Homo sapiens: one gene and its partner. The protein of the gene in region 2 binds, or shares a complex with, the protein of the main gene of each other region. Each region holds a gene or a part of one and is shown on either strand. Other genes may lie near its edges.

Region 1 (7,527 bases), on a different chromosome or scaffold from region 2:
CCAGGGCCAGTGGGGAGAGGGCCAGGAGGCATGAGGGCCTCAGGGCACACCTCACGGCCAAGGGAAACCCGAGGTACCAGACGGGGCTCTGCCAGGCCACGGGGTCCAGCTGATGCCTCAGCAGGCCCTGTCCTGCAGCCTTGAGGGGGTCCCTGCCCAACACTATATCTGGTCACCCTCACCCCCAGGGCCCACGCCCCTGCTTCTGGAGTGGGGACCACCCACGTCACAGCACCTAGGGTCACCATGAGGATAAACCAGGTCCCTACATGTCAGAGTCCTCAGAGCTGGACTCCTCGCCATGCCCCTCTGACTTCCAGCGCTTATAGCGGTCGATGAGCTCCGTGAGGAAGGAGGTCTTCTTGGTGTAGCGTGTGATGAACTTGTGCTTCAGGAGCTCCTTGGCCGTGGGCCGCTGCAGGGGGTCAGGGGAACACTAGTCACTGGGCCCAGCCAAGCTCTGCCTAAGGGAAGCAAACGTGAGGCAGCCTGGACCGGGGCGGGCCCTCACAGCTACAAGGCTGGTGGGCCTGGGCCTCCGGGCTGTGCCGCCCACCCCAAGCGAACGCCCTCCCTCCACGTCCTGTCTAGAAGGGACCGGGCCAGAGGCGGGCCTTACGAATCGGGGGTCTTTGTTGAGGCAGGCCTCCACGAACTCCTTGAAGGGCTTGCTGTGCTGGCCCTCCAGTGTGGGTGGGCTGTTCTTGGGAATCAGGAACAGGACGCGCATGGGGTGGAGGTCAGAGTTTGGAGGCTCCCCCTTGGCCAGCTCGATGGCTGTGATCCCCAGGGACCAGATGTCAGCCTGGACAGAACACAAGGACTGTTGCTGCCCTGAGCACCCGAGCCAGGCATGGTGCCCGCACCTGCCCGCCCGCTGCACCCACCTTGAAGTCGTAGGCCGACTGCTTGATGACCTCAGGTGCCATCCAGAAGGGGGTGCCCACGAATGTGTTCCTCTTAATCTGCGTGTCTGTGAGCTGCCCTGCTACCCCAAAGTCCGCCAGCTTCACGTCACCCTGCTCCGAGAGTAGCACGTTGGCAGCTGCTTGACACAGGACAGGCAGGCGTCATCCCAGGCTCCACGTGGCTCCACCCCGGGCCCCCTGAGAAGGGCCAGGGTACCATCCACCTGGCCTCCTAGGGCACAGCAGGGCTGTCCTCAGGACCTCAGCCCTCCTTGCCACTCTCAAACCCAGGGCCACCTAGGGCCACAGGGGCACTGCCAGCAGGAGCCCAACGGCTCCACTCCGAGCTCCAGGGCTCTTCCTGCATTTGGCTTTTACGACAAATCCCAACGACAAGCGACTTCGCCCACTGGGGGCTACCGCAGAGGTGACCCTGACCAAGGGTGTAGCCAACACGGGCCTGCCAGGAAGCCCCCTGCTCCACCAGAATCGTCCCCTACATGACAGAGATGGCTCGTTGCCAGTGGCAAGTCCCTCCCCATGGGCTGGCCCAGCCTCCCGTCTGCTCTCAGCAGGGCCAGACCACACGCTGGGGCTACTCAATTCTACACCTGCTGCTGTGCCGTGCACCACAGGGAACCAACAACTCCAGCCAAGTGTGGCCCTTTCCTACACTCAGTCCACAGCTGGTTTCCTCAGCGTACAAGGAAACCGTTACAAGTAGTATCTTCTGGAAAGGGAGCGAGACAGGACTGCTCAGTTTCAGGGTGGCCACAAGGTTCTCTATACTCCAGACCCTGGGCACCACTAGCCACTTGCCCCTCACAGGCCCCGGCCTCTCTAAGGTCAGTGGGGCTCAGGACGTTACAAGAGCCACATCCACCCCCAGCAGGACCTTTGATGTCTCGGTGGATCTTGCGTTCGGAGTGCAGATAATCCAGGCCCTTCAGAATCTCCCGCAGGATCGTGGCAATGTATGTCTCCTCCAGGGGACCTGGTTTAAGCTGGAGAGGAAGGTGCGACAGCAGGGCCTCAGCTCCTGTCCCAGGCCCAATGCCTGAGTTCTCTGCCTCTCTCACAGGGAAGGGCTGTCCCTGCAGATAGCTGGGGGCTTCGTGTTCCTTTACTTCCCAAACAGAACTAAGTTTCAGATGGGAGTGGGGTGGTGGAGGCTCTTTCTAAAGCATATAAACCAGCCTCACCTTACTGTCATGTAACAGAAAAATAGGCTCCCAGCCATCTCCCAGCAGGCCTGCCCCCGCCCACTCCCACAGGCCAGGACCCCTTTCAGCACCAACTGGGCAGACGTGCAGATGGCAGTTCATTTTTGCTTTAGACGATTCCTAATTAACACCTAACGTGCCATGACACCAAACGAGAGGTGGCCCCTGGAGCCCATGAGTCTGAGGGGCAGGGGACTCGGACACTGCATGACCCCCCACTGCCATGGCCTATGCCTCACCAAGTCCAGTGCTGAGCCGCCGCCCAGGTACTCCATGATGATCCATAGCTTGGTGCTCTGGGACCGGAGACAAACCCATCAGCATTTGGCAGCAAGAGGAAGGGCATGCTCCAGGGTGGGAGTCACAGGCCGGAGTCAGCCAGGGCCCAGGCCCCACCGGTCCCATCCCTGCCAAGAACCCTGAACAGGAAAGGGCTCTCTCGGCCTTGCCCATCTTCCCCTCCTGCCACACTACTGCTACAGATGCTCAGAGGACAGGTTGAGTACACACAGCAGTGGCTGACTCCACTTCACCAAGACCCCATCAAAAACCAGGCTGCTGATCCAGTCCTACAGGGCTGGGAAGAGGGCATGGCTGGCAAGCATGTGACCCGACACACCCATCACCCTCCTGGGCAGGATGGCCACAGCGTTCCCTACACCCCAGACACTGGCACCACCAGCCACCTGCTCCTCACAGGCCCACTCACCACTGCCAGTAGGGGCCCCCCAGAGTGCTCCTAGCAGCGCCCTCACTGCATTACCACAGGCAGGCAAGTGGGTCCCAATGGCCATTTAGAGCCAACTGACCCTCGTGGACGAGGGCTCACACCCTGCCTGCCCAGGGCAGTTTCCCGGAGGGCATGCACTGAACCGTCAAGACCGCCTTGCACCCTCTGGCATGTCACTCAGTCCCTCTGACATGGAAGAGAGCCGGGCACAGCACCAGCAGGGTCCCCGCCTCCCCACAACAGGCACCTTTAGGTAGGAGCCAAAGTAGCGGGTGATGTAGGGGCTGTCGCACTGACTGAGGACAGTGATCTCCTGCTGGATGTCCTCGATCTCATCCTCGGCCTCCTCCAGGTCGATGATCTTGATGGCCACCACCTCCTTTGTGTGGTTATCGATGCCCTTGTAGACCTCCCCAAACGAGCCCTTGCCAATGCGGTCGAGCTTGGTGAAGAGCTCCTCAGGGTCCACTCGAGAGTGCTGTGGGGCCAGGGCGGGGACAGAGGGCAGACAGCGCCGGTCACAAGAGGCGGGGGACAGGCAGAGGCTGCCCTGCTGGGGAGGAAGGGACCTGTAGGGAAGGGGGAGTCCAAGGGAGCGCACCTCAATTCTTCTCTGGTTTCTTCCTTTCTCCCTTTTTGTTCAAAAACTAAACTTGGCCGGGCGTGGTGGCTCACGCCTGTAATTCTAGCACTTTGGGAGGCCGAGGCAGGTGGATCACTTGAGGTCAGGAGTTCGAGACCAGCCTGGCCAGCATGGTGAAACCCCATCTCTAATACAAAAAAATTATCTGGGCGTGGCGGCTCATGCCTGTAATCCCAGCTACTCAGGAGGCTGAGGCAGGAGAATTGCTTGAACCCGGGAGGCGGAGGTTGCAGTGAGCCAAGACCGCACCATTGCACTCCAACCTGGGCAACAAGAATCAAACTCCATTAAAAAAACAAACAAACAAACAAATAACAACAACAAAAAAACCTAAACTGAACTTTCCATGCAAGGGAAAAAGTCCCCAGAAAGTATAAAGAGGCCAGGCCAACTCGATGAACCCTGCTGGAAACAGGAGCTTTAGGTGATGACACGGCATGAAGGTTGCCTCATCTAACCCGAACAACATGCCAGCCCCGTGACAGATGTTAATAGGTGAATGGCCCCTGGGGGTGAGGGGGGATTTGGGAGCTCTTACTTAATTTGTTATAAATCTGAAATTACTAAAAAATAAACTCATCAGGCCAGGCTTGGTGGTGCACACCTGAAATCCCAGCACTCTGGGAGGCCAAGGCGGGTTGATCACCTGAAGTCAGGAGTTCGCAACCAGCCTGACTAACATGGTAAAACCCCATCTCTACTGAATACAAAAAAAATTAGCCGGGCGAGGTTGCGTATGCCTGTGATCCGAGCTACTTGAGAGTCCAAGACAGAAGAATCACTTGAATCAGGGAAGCGGAGGTTGCGGTGAGCCGAGATCGCACCATCGCACTCCAGCCTGGGCAACAAGAGCGAAACTAGGTCTCAAAAAAATAAAAAATTTAAAAAAAAAAACCTCATCAAAAACAAAAAACCTCAGTATGTGTTAACCAAGTTCTCCTCCACTCCTGAAAGTCACGTATTTAGAAAGGGCTTCCCTCACCCCTCCATAAGTCCTCCTGACAGCTACACCAGCGCGGAGTTAGAAACTTGATGCTTTCTTGATGCAGAAAGCTGCCTCACACAGTCCTCAGATTTAAAGAAGCAATGCCTAAAAGTTTCTGAGCCAGTGGTGTGGAAGGTGCCTGGGGTCTGTGGCCCAGGCCCAGAGTCCAGGGGAAGCCAGCAGAGGTGTGTCCTCAAGCCTCGACCCTTTTTTAAATGTTTTTGAGATGGCTTCTCACTCTGTCACCCAGGCTGGAGTGTAGTGGTGCAATCTTGGCTCACTGCAACCTCTGCCTCCTGGGTTCAAGCGATTCTTCTGCCTCAGCCTCCCAAGTAGCTGGAATTACAGGCATGCACCACCACTCCCAGTTAATTTTTTGTATTTTTAGTAGAGATAAGGTTTCACCATGTTGGCCAGGCTGGTCTCGAACTCCTGACTTCAGGTGATCTGCCCATCTCAGCCTCCCAAAGTGCTGGGATTACAGGCGTGAGCCACCACGCACGGCCCCTCCCCTAACAACATCAAGGGTCTTGATGCCAATTTAGTGTGGCAGAGCATAAAAAGGCAAAACAGCCTGGGCGCGGTGGTTCACGCCTGTAATCCCAACACTTTGGGAGGCCGAGGCGGGCAGATCACGAGGTCAGGAGATCAAGACCACCCTGGCTAACATGGTGAAACCCCGTCTCTACTAAAAAATACAAAAAATTAGCCGGGTGTGGTGGTGGGCGCCTGCAGTCCCAGCTACTCGGGAGGCTGAGGCAGGATAATATCATGAACCCAGGAGGCGGAGATCGTGCCACTGCACTCCAGCCTGGGCGACAGAGCAAGACTCCGTCTCAAAAAAAAAAAAAAAAAAAAAGGCAAAACGACTAATTATGCCACAAAAAAAAACACTGAAGACAGGACAGGTCCTTGGGTGGGGGTGCCCTGCACGTTCCTGGGCCTGCGGAGACCGTGCCCACCAAGAAGGATGGGGTACACCACACACAGCCCTCACACTCACCCCCTGGACACCTGTGTGCTGGGTCCACCCCAGGCCTAAGCCCAGCGGAGGAGCTGGCTGAAGCCAACTGGACATCGCACCAGCCTGAGGCGACACTTCCGTGTGAAACTGCCAATTAGCTGACCTCCCAGGGTTCCTAACCAGGAGGGTGGAAGGGGCGGCACACAGGCCCCCACCTTGAAACATGCCGCTGCACATCCCTTTTTGAGTGCCAGACCTCGAGGTGACTGGAACTCTGGGGAAGGAAAGGCAGTTAGGGGAGGGCCAGAGGCCACCTAACCTTTCCCTGCAAGGCTGGCTTGTCAAGGCCCGGGGGTGTGCAGGTGGCCTCCATGCAGCAGCTAGAGCAGGCCAGCTGCAGTGTACACACAGACCCTTGCTTAGCCCAAAGGTCTGGCCAGTTGAGACAGCTGGTCGAGTCAAAAGTGACCTTTCTCATTCTCTCATCAGTACAGCAGCCCAGTCCTAAAGCCAGTACCCATGGAGGAAACAGCAGGGGGTGCCTTGAGCCCACCTGCTACCAGGAGTCCCCAAAGCCAAGGTCAAGAAACTCGGCAGGATAGAGAGAGCTGAGTACTGCCTGGGGTCATTCCGGTCAAGGTGAGCTGTGTCTGCCCCCAGCCCCATCACTGCTGCTGACCATGTGTTCTAAAGAGAAGCCAGGAAAAATTCAAAGCTGACAAGTCACAGGTGCTCAGCTGTCTCCGGGTTGAGGGTGGGTGGCACAGATGAGGTGAGAACCAGCCCCTATCTGAAAGGAAAGTCAACCCAGAACATGCAATCTTTTTTTGAGATGGGGGGTCTCGCTGTGTGCCCAGGCTGGTCTCCTCAGCCTCCTGAGTAGCTGGGCCCACAAGTGCATGTCAAAGCATAAGCTCATCAGCCCACTGGCTGTCATAGGTAAGCAGTCAGTGTTAAAATATCACCCTCCTGCCATAGAGAGCATCATCTCCGTTTCCTCCTCCCTGTTTGCTCCATTTCTGGTGGAGGACCACCCGTTCCTAGCCCAGTCCTGGATGCCAGGTGCAGGACAAGGTTAAGAAGCAGCCCCTCTTCTTTTTCTTTTTTTTTTTGAGATAGAGTCTCACTCTGTTGCCCAGGCTGGAGTGCAGTGGCGTGATCTCGGCTCACTGCAACCTCCGCCTCCCAGGTTCAAGCGATTCTTCCACCTCAGCCTCCCGAGTAGCCGGACTTACAGGCACCCGCCATCATGCCCCGTTAATTTTTTTTTTTTTTGAATTTTTGTAGAGACAGGGTTTCACCATGTTGGCCAGGCTAGTCTCGAACTCCTGACCTCAGGTGATCTGCAGAAGCAGCCCCTCTTCTGCCTGCTCCTCCTCCAGCAGGCCCAACGCCACCTTGTCAAATCCTCCCTGTTTGCTCAGCCCATCAACGCTTACTCGGGGCCCTGGGACGCTGCTCCACCGAGCCGTTAGCCTGTAGGCCTGGCCTCAGCCTCAACCCAACCCTGCCCAAGCACCCGGAAAGACCCCAAGGGAGTCCTCCTGGGGATTCCAGAGGTCTGTTGGTGCCCTGAGCTTGTGTCCTCCCATCTACTCCTGTCTAAGGTGGCCTGAGAGAGGGCCTGGAGAAAGCAGGGCCATGACCTGGCAGCATTACCCAGCACCACCACCCCTCCGACTCTTCAGGCCTCTCTGGATGACGCGTCCTCCCGCCCTGCTCTACTCCCTGCTCCCTGCTGAGGCCATGCTGCTCTCCACACAGGGCCTGGAGCTGAATCTGCTCCATCACAGCAGCCCCGGTAGGGAAACCCCTGGGTGGGCACTCAGACCTCTACTGCTTCACAGCAGGGGAGCACAGCGGACCCCTAAGCCAGAGCCAGGGCTCATCAGCCCAAGCAGAAACTGTGTGACAGGAACCCTCTTGGCTGTGATCCTGGCCCTACAATGACATCGCAGGCCAAGCCAAGGCAAGCCATCCCCACCCCCACCTGGAGAAGAAAGGGTAAGTGGGCCCCTGGCCTGGAGGCTGCGAATCCTCTTTTGGATGTAGCAGCAGCTGTGGCCTGGATGAT
Region 2 (7,527 bases):
ATTGCTAAATCTCCACATGACACTTTGAAACTGCTAGCAATAAACGGGAAAAAAATCATTAATCAACACTGCAGAAAAAGAAAAATGGTAAGCTGTGATGCTTTTACTTTTCAATTAGAAAAATATATTGATCACGACCACAAGTGGACATACCATCTGAATAAATAAAGCCTCCTGTAGTTAACTTGTCATTTAAAAAATGAATTAGATGAAAAGGATAATTTTCTGCAGTATGCTCAGCCATTTGAAGACTGGAGTCATTTAAGAAAAACATGAAACATCCTTAGAGAGGACCTAATTATTTCATATTGGTTGTGGCTCTTTAAAAATGGCAGAGCATTCCATGCCCTATACAGAGTACACAAGGAAATAATTTTCACATTGAATATAGATCTCTTACAGAATGAGGAAAAAAACACTTTACACAACACACTTTTCGATAACATGCAGTATTGAGGGAATAGTAAATCATCATCCTTCACAAAGAAGGTGCAGGTGCTCTAAAATAATCTTAGAGCTAATGATTTCAGAAAGAGGCTTCCAAATTTGAAATTTAAAATGCAAACTTAATTTCAAAGTTGGTTTTTCCAAATCTCTGATAAGTCCTAGGAATCCAGTGTGAGCAAGAAGAAAACTTTCTCCCTATTTTATGACTTGTACCTCCCACTATCTGTGATGAATGCCATGGGTCAAATGCCATAACAAATTTCCTCTTTTAGAGCCAGCAAAGTCTAGCCTGGTTGTAGCCAAGACTAAAGCAGGAAAAGGTCCTACCAAAGAGCTTGTCTAGAATTGATCCACCAAAAGATTTCCAAGGCCAACTGGGCACCCAACTGACCCCAGGGCAAGTTGATCATTTTATTGTGATTCAGGATCCCACCCTTGCACCATCTTTAGGCCCAAGAGCCCCCAGAAGAGCCCTGAACTGGTAACAGCGCCTGTATGGACAGGGTAGGCAGAGCACAGTTTATTGGAGCTGACCTCTATCTATTGATGCTTGTTGACAAGAACTTAGTCAGTGATTCTGGAGCAGCTCCTCCCAACAGATGGGCTGTGAAAACACCTCTCTCTCGAGCCAGAGCTCATATGAATAGTGGAAATCTTCAGGCAGATCCAACCTCTGCCCCAGTACGCTCTGCAAGCAGTTATCCACAGGTGAAAACTCAGAGTCCTGGGGTCTGTCATAGCGACGGCTGTTAAAAGCCTCAATGTTGGCCCTCAAGGTACATTCTTCTGCTTGGAAGTCCCATGGTCTGGCATCGATGTCTGTGTTGGAAAGAGAGGAAGAAGAAGACATACAATGCAAGACACTGCTCCTCTTATCACAGAGCATGGTCTATGGGATTCCAAAAATGGAACTGCTCAGAAATTCTTTTTTTTTTTTTTTTTGTAAAGAGCAATGTATGAAGTTAGTATACAGCATGCTGACACTTAGGTTTAAAAAATACACATATGCCCACATGCATAAGCTTGTATATGCAGAAATTATCTTTGGAAGGGTAGTCTAGAAACTGGTAATAGTGGTTACCTATGAGAAAGGAAATGAGGGCCCAGAGGGAGGTGGACTTCTTCTATTGTATTTCCTTTTTATTATTTCACTTTCTTATTAGCTTTATGTATTACTAGTTATATGTATTATGTTTCCCAAAAGGGTAATTAAATTCCTTTTATGCAGCTTTCCTTAGGGGATGAGTGTCCCATCTGAATGGAATAGCCAGCTTTCAAGGAATAGGAAGGGGCAAGAGGGGTATAACATGGAGAATCAGAATGGACCAATTACCGAAGATTTTCCTGATTCCCTGGAATCTCCTCCAGCACATGATAAATCTATATGTCAGCTTATTTTAAGATGATGAGGTGACGGCTTCAATGAAGGTAAAAACAGAAAACAGATAATCTGTTTCGCTTCTATTCACTTAGACACTTATTTCAGGGCTGAAGATACAAATCTCCCAGATCTCTCATGTTCTACATGCAAGGGTTTATCATAAGGAAGTGTAGTGTGAGTTTGGGCTCATAATGGCAGCAACAACAGATGTGCCATTTGCAGGATAAAACATTTTTGTGTTTTAAAAATTTACAAGAATTTAATAGATAATTGTGCTTTATGTCTTATAGCAGAAGTTGCATCCTGGCTTGTTATGTGCCTATCATATGTTTCCTTTAGTTCTCTAAACCCTTTTTTAGTGAAAAGACAGTCCCTCAGCACCACAAATTATGCAGTTGAGTTTCCCACATTTAGGGGAATAGCAGGGGTCAGCATATCTGGAGTAAAATGGATAAGACTTGTCCTGGGAAAACCATCTTCATGATCATGGTATTTTCCCTGCCAGGTAAGTAAGTAGAGTTATCTGAACTCTTTACTGCATCATCCTTTAAAATTCAAGCAGGTTACAAACACAGCAAAGACAAGTCATTACCAAAAATTCTCAAATACAATTATGGAAATAATGGTCAAATACAAAACAATAAAAAAGCTCTCCAAAATAAATTTTTCCAAACTCTGATCAATCTTACAAGTTCTGGTAGTTTAACCAAATATCTTGCCTTCTGATGTGAGGCAATGTACAGTTCCCAAGATTACCTAGGACATACTGCAGCCAAAAAGGTTTAAATTGAATTCATCAAACCTTTAGATTTAACTTCAAGTTTACAGGTAATACCATAGATAGACGAATAAAGTAGATAACACCACAAAGAAGAAAACAGACAAATCCAGAATGTGAGTATTTTGCAGGACAACTGGCCTAGTTCTTCAATTAGTTAGCATTAATGGTGGAGGTGGGGAGACTGCTTAGAGGCCAAGCACGGTGGCTTACACCTGTAATCCCAGCACTTTGGGAGGCCAGGGCAGGAGGATCCCTTGAGCCCAGGAGTTCAAGACCAGCCTGGGCAACACAGGGAGAGACTCCATCTCTACAAAAAAATTTGAAAAATTAGCCGGGTGTAGTGGTGGTATGCATCTGTAGTCCCAGCTACTTGGCAGCTGGGAGGATCACTTGAGCCCAGGAAGTCGAGGCTGCAGTGAGCCATTATCATGTCACTGCTTTCCAGCCTGGGTGACAGAGCGACCCTCTCAAAAAAACAAACAAACAAAAAACAGAAAACAAAAATAATTAACATATATATAACAACTGGATGCAACCTGTGGTCCTGGATTGGATTCTGACTTGGAAAAATAGCTATGAAGAACATTTTGGGACAACTCGAAAATTGTGAATATGAACTTTATTAGATGAAATGAAAATGTACTGACATGAAAAGGTAGAGATAATGTTAAAAGAGAAAATTACAAAATAGCATACATAACTTGCTTTCATTTTGATAAAATATGCATGTATATGCATAGAAAAAGATCTGGAGGAATATACAATAAGATGTTAATGGTGGCAATTTCTGCATAGTACAAATATGGCATAAATATAATATAGTAAAATGTTTGTTTACTTGTATTTTCTATCTTTTTTTCTAACTGCTTTGTAATAATAAAAAGTTGTTTTAATTTAAATCTTTTGGAGAAAGCTGTCATTTAAAAGAATGTTTTGGAAAGGCAATTAATTATCTCTCAATTTACTTGTTTTATAAAACGGATTTTCATAGTTTACATAGGACAAGGGTACATACTAGAATTTGAGGCATAACCTTAAAGTTTGGTGTATCAGCGCCTGACCTATAATCACATATTTTTTCATCTAAAATATGTAACAATTCATGCCAAAAGAGGAGTGATAAATATTTATTTAGTTTTGTCTAAACCCCAGGAAACTCCAGGAAGTCAAGAGCTTTGGGAAGACTCACCATTCCCGTAAGCCCAGTCATCGTTCATGCGGTGACGCACTTTCTGGTAAATGGCTGACATGGTTTTCATGTTGCTTTTCCTCCATTGGCGCCCCAGGTACTTGGTCTGTAACTTTAGTAGCTTTAGGACATAAAGTTGCAGCATGGCCTGTTTGACCTTGAGGGCCCGCTTTAAGATTGGTGCCGATTTAAACACTACCAGCATCTGTTCATTGAAAGAGGGGTGGGGTAAAGATCTAACGTTTCTTGGAATTTCCAGTTTACAGACAAATTAAACCAAACCTAGCTAGCCTCAGAAATTCCTGGGGAGCTTTCAGGAATCTATGGTCCAGGCTCTACTTAGATTTAATCTTCAAGAATATAGAGGGGGGCTGGGCAAGGTGGCTCATGTCTGTAATCCCAGCACTTTGGGAGGCCGAAGCCAGTGGATCACGTAAGGTCAGGAGTTTGAGACCACCCTGGCCAACATGATGAAACCCCATCTCTACTAAAAATACAAAAATTAGCCAGGCGTGGTGGCATGGGCCTGTAATCCCAGCTACTAAGGAGGCTGAGGCACATGAATTGCTTGAACCCAGGAGGCGGAGGTTGCAGTGAGCTGAGATCATGCCACTGCACTACAGCCTGAGTGACAGAGCAAGACTCCGTCTCAAAAAAAAAAAAAAAAAATATATATATATATATATATATAGAGAGAGAGAGAGAGAGAGAGAACTATTCCATTCATATTTTATTGTTCAAAGTTTTCAATATTCAAAGCATATGGTATAAAGTGAAAAGAAAATTTTGTCAGCCACACATATCATTTCCACTGTCACAGTATTTTTGTTTATTTTCTGGAGATAATTCTATGTATGCATATATTACTTTTATTTTTTTGTTTTGTTTTGTTTTTAAGATGGAGTCTTACTCTGTCGCCCAGGCTGGAGTGCAGTGGTGCAGTCTCGATTCACTGCAACCTCAACCTCCTGGGTTCAAGTGATTCTCCTGCCTCAGCCTCCCCTGAGTAGAGGCGCCCGCCACCACACCCAGCTAATTTTTAGTAGAGATGGGGTTTCATCATGTTGGTCAGGCTGGTCTCAAACTCCTGACCTCAAGTGATCCTCCCACCTTGGCCTTCCGAAGTGCTGGAATTACAGGTGTGGGCCACCACACCCAGCCTACTTTTGTTTTTTAACACAAATGGTAGCCAACTACATATCCTGCCACACTGTTCTATACCTGGTTTTTTTTATTGAATATATCTTGAAAACCATTCCATATCAGTACAGAACTGCCTCATTCTTTTACTTTTTTTAATAGAGATGGGGTCTTATCATGTTGCCCAGGCTGGTCTCAAACTCCTGGGCTCAGGCAATCCTTCTGCCTCAGCCTCCCAAAGTGCTGGGATTACAGGCATGCACCACTGAGCCCGGCTGCTCATTCTTTTTAATGATTGCATAATATTCTATTATAAGGACATACCATCATTTATTTAACCAGTTGGTCCTGCTTAATGAGCATTTAGCTTGTTTCCAGGCTTTCATTATTATTATTATTATTATTATTTTGAGACGGAGTCTCACTCCGTTGCCCACGCTGGAGTGCAGTGGCATGATCTCGGCTCACTGAAACCTCTGCCTCCCAGGTTCAAATGATTCTCCTGCCTCAGCCTCCCGAGTAGCTGGGACTATAGGTGCCTGCCACCTTTCCCAGCTAATTTTTGTATTTTTAGTAGAGATGGAGTTTCACCATGTTGGTCAGGCTGGTCTCGAACTCCTGACCTTGTTATCTGCCCGCCTCGGCTTCCCAAAGTGCTGGGATTACAGGCATGAGCTACGGAGCCCAGACAAGCTTTCATTATTATAAACAATGTTGCAATGATAAACCTTGCACTTGCATCATTTGGGAATGTATGTAATCCAAACAACATTGCTAGCTTCCCTGCTAGAGTTGCCCTGAGGGAGGGTTTGAGATTCAGCCCCCTGAAAAGAAATGGACTGATAAGTAATCATCTAATATAGAATAAGTGCCCAGAATTATGAGGTGCTAAATCTTATGTAGCATTCAGTGTCTATATACGGAGATCACAAACCAGGTAGCACACAAATATTTACTAGTGATCTTTTAAAAATTCAGTCAGATGGACAACTCCATGATGTAAAAAACCACACTCACCATGGTCCGGGAATGTTTCCATTTGGTCAGTTTATTGAGCAGCCTCAGGAGGTTGATGCAGGAAAAGAGGTTCCTCCAGCAGAACTGGCTGTTGTCTCCAGCTTCCTATAGTAGGGAACATCCATCATTATCTTAATACCTACAAGGCTTTAATTCCCACAGAAGCCTGGAAGTCAATGTTGGTCAGTTTAGGTGAGGCCTTCCTGTATGAAATAATACCTCCTCACCTTCCTGTTTCTTAACACACTGAAGTCTCCAAAGCCCATGGTTTAAAAACCCCCTCAGCTGCCAATCCTGGAAGACTCTACCTACAGCATGTGTTGGTTAGAAAGATGATACATGAGCACAGGAACCTGATTCAGGCAAGTTTTCTTGTGTAGCTTATTGCTCTAGGATCAGAAAAGAGATGAGAGAATTTTACCCCCATATACAGGTACTTTGCGCTTATATAAACTATGTTTGTAATTGTTAGGATTAGGTCTAATTCTGGTAGATTTTAAACTATGTTGGATGGATCTGATATCAACTATGGTTGAATTTTTTTTTATCTTATCAACCTTCACCCTCCTTTATCAAACCATATTACAGTTAGATGCTTAATTCTTCAGCATGGAAGGAAAAATGGCAGATGGTTTCTTCTAATCAGATATTTTTCTTATATATTTCTTGATAGTTTGTGAACACCTAACCAGAGACAACAGATGGATGTCAGATTAAAAGCAGGTATCTACTCATAGAAAGATTTTTCAGAAATAAAAATGTGAGTCCTTATGTGAATTTGGGGCTTGCAAATACATACTGGTGTCAGAAGCTATATAACTCAATGAGCACACGTGACAGCCAAACTAACATCTTGGAAATTCCTCACATCTACAATGTGATAGGAGAATGTAGGAGTAGATGACATGTAGAAGTGAGCTGCTGTCTGGTGAATGGAAAATTACCTCCTCCTCCCTCAAATTAATTTGAAGCAAGACAGGCATATATCTAATGTGGAATGAACATCCAAAGTTTTTGAGGGTATTAGGCTTTCCTAATACCTAATACCAAGAGCCAAAAAGTTTCAGGGAAATTTCTTATTTAGAAATATTATTTATAGGTCGGTTGTGGTAGCTCACACTGGTAATCCTAGCACTTTGGGAGGCCGAGGCAGGCAGATGACCTGAGTTCAGGAGTTCGAGACCAGCTTGGCCAACATGGTGAAACTCCATTTCTACTAAAAAAATTAAAAAATTAGCTGGGCATGGTGGCAGGAGCCTGTAATCCCAGCTACTTGGGAGGCTGAGGCAGGAGAATCACTTGAACCCAGGAGGCAGAGGTTGCAGTGAGCCAAGACCACGCCATTGAACTCTAGCCTGGGCAACAAGAGAGAAACTCCATCTCAAAAAAAAAAAAAAAGAAACATTATTTATAAATAATATTCTCCATCATACAGTAAATGTTCAATATTGTCCCAGGAGAACCATCTGTCTGCTTCTAAGGAAAACTTCTATGGGACTTTCTACTGTAGTGCATCAGGTAGTCTGGCTTGCCCCAAATAGACCAAGTTCTACAGACGTTATATCTTGTGTG

Evidence for each region.
Region 1: STRIP2 (region 2) and STK25 share a complex: the UniProt entries of both Homo sapiens proteins name them as parts of the core of STRIPAK complex.

Annotation. Positions count from the first base shown.
Region 1 is NC_000002.12:241,498,370-241,505,896, forward strand, and holds part of STK25 (serine/threonine-protein kinase 25), read right to left. Parts: intron 3,340-7,527; coding exon 3,109-3,339; intron 2,428-3,108; coding exon 2,371-2,427; intron 1,913-2,370; coding exon 1,804-1,912; intron 1,046-1,803; coding exon 888-1,045; intron 806-887; coding exon 620-805; intron 416-619; coding exon 270-415; intron 1-269. UniProt on the Homo sapiens protein: Oxidant stress-activated serine/threonine kinase that may play a role in the response to environmental stress.
Region 2 is NC_000007.14:129,479,318-129,486,844, reverse strand, and holds part of STRIP2 (striatin-interacting protein 2), read right to left. Parts: intron 6,345-7,527; coding exon of another isoform or gene 6,264-6,344; exon of another isoform or gene 6,061-6,263; coding exon 5,956-6,060; intron 4,004-5,955; coding exon 3,799-4,003; coding exon of another isoform or gene 3,776-3,798; exon of another isoform or gene 3,214-3,775; intron 1,267-3,213; coding exon 1,016-1,266; 3' UTR 1-1,015. UniProt on the Homo sapiens protein: Plays a role in the regulation of cell morphology and cytoskeletal organization. Required in the control of cell shape. Calmodulin-binding scaffolding protein which is the center of the striatin-interacting phosphatase and kinase (STRIPAK) complexes.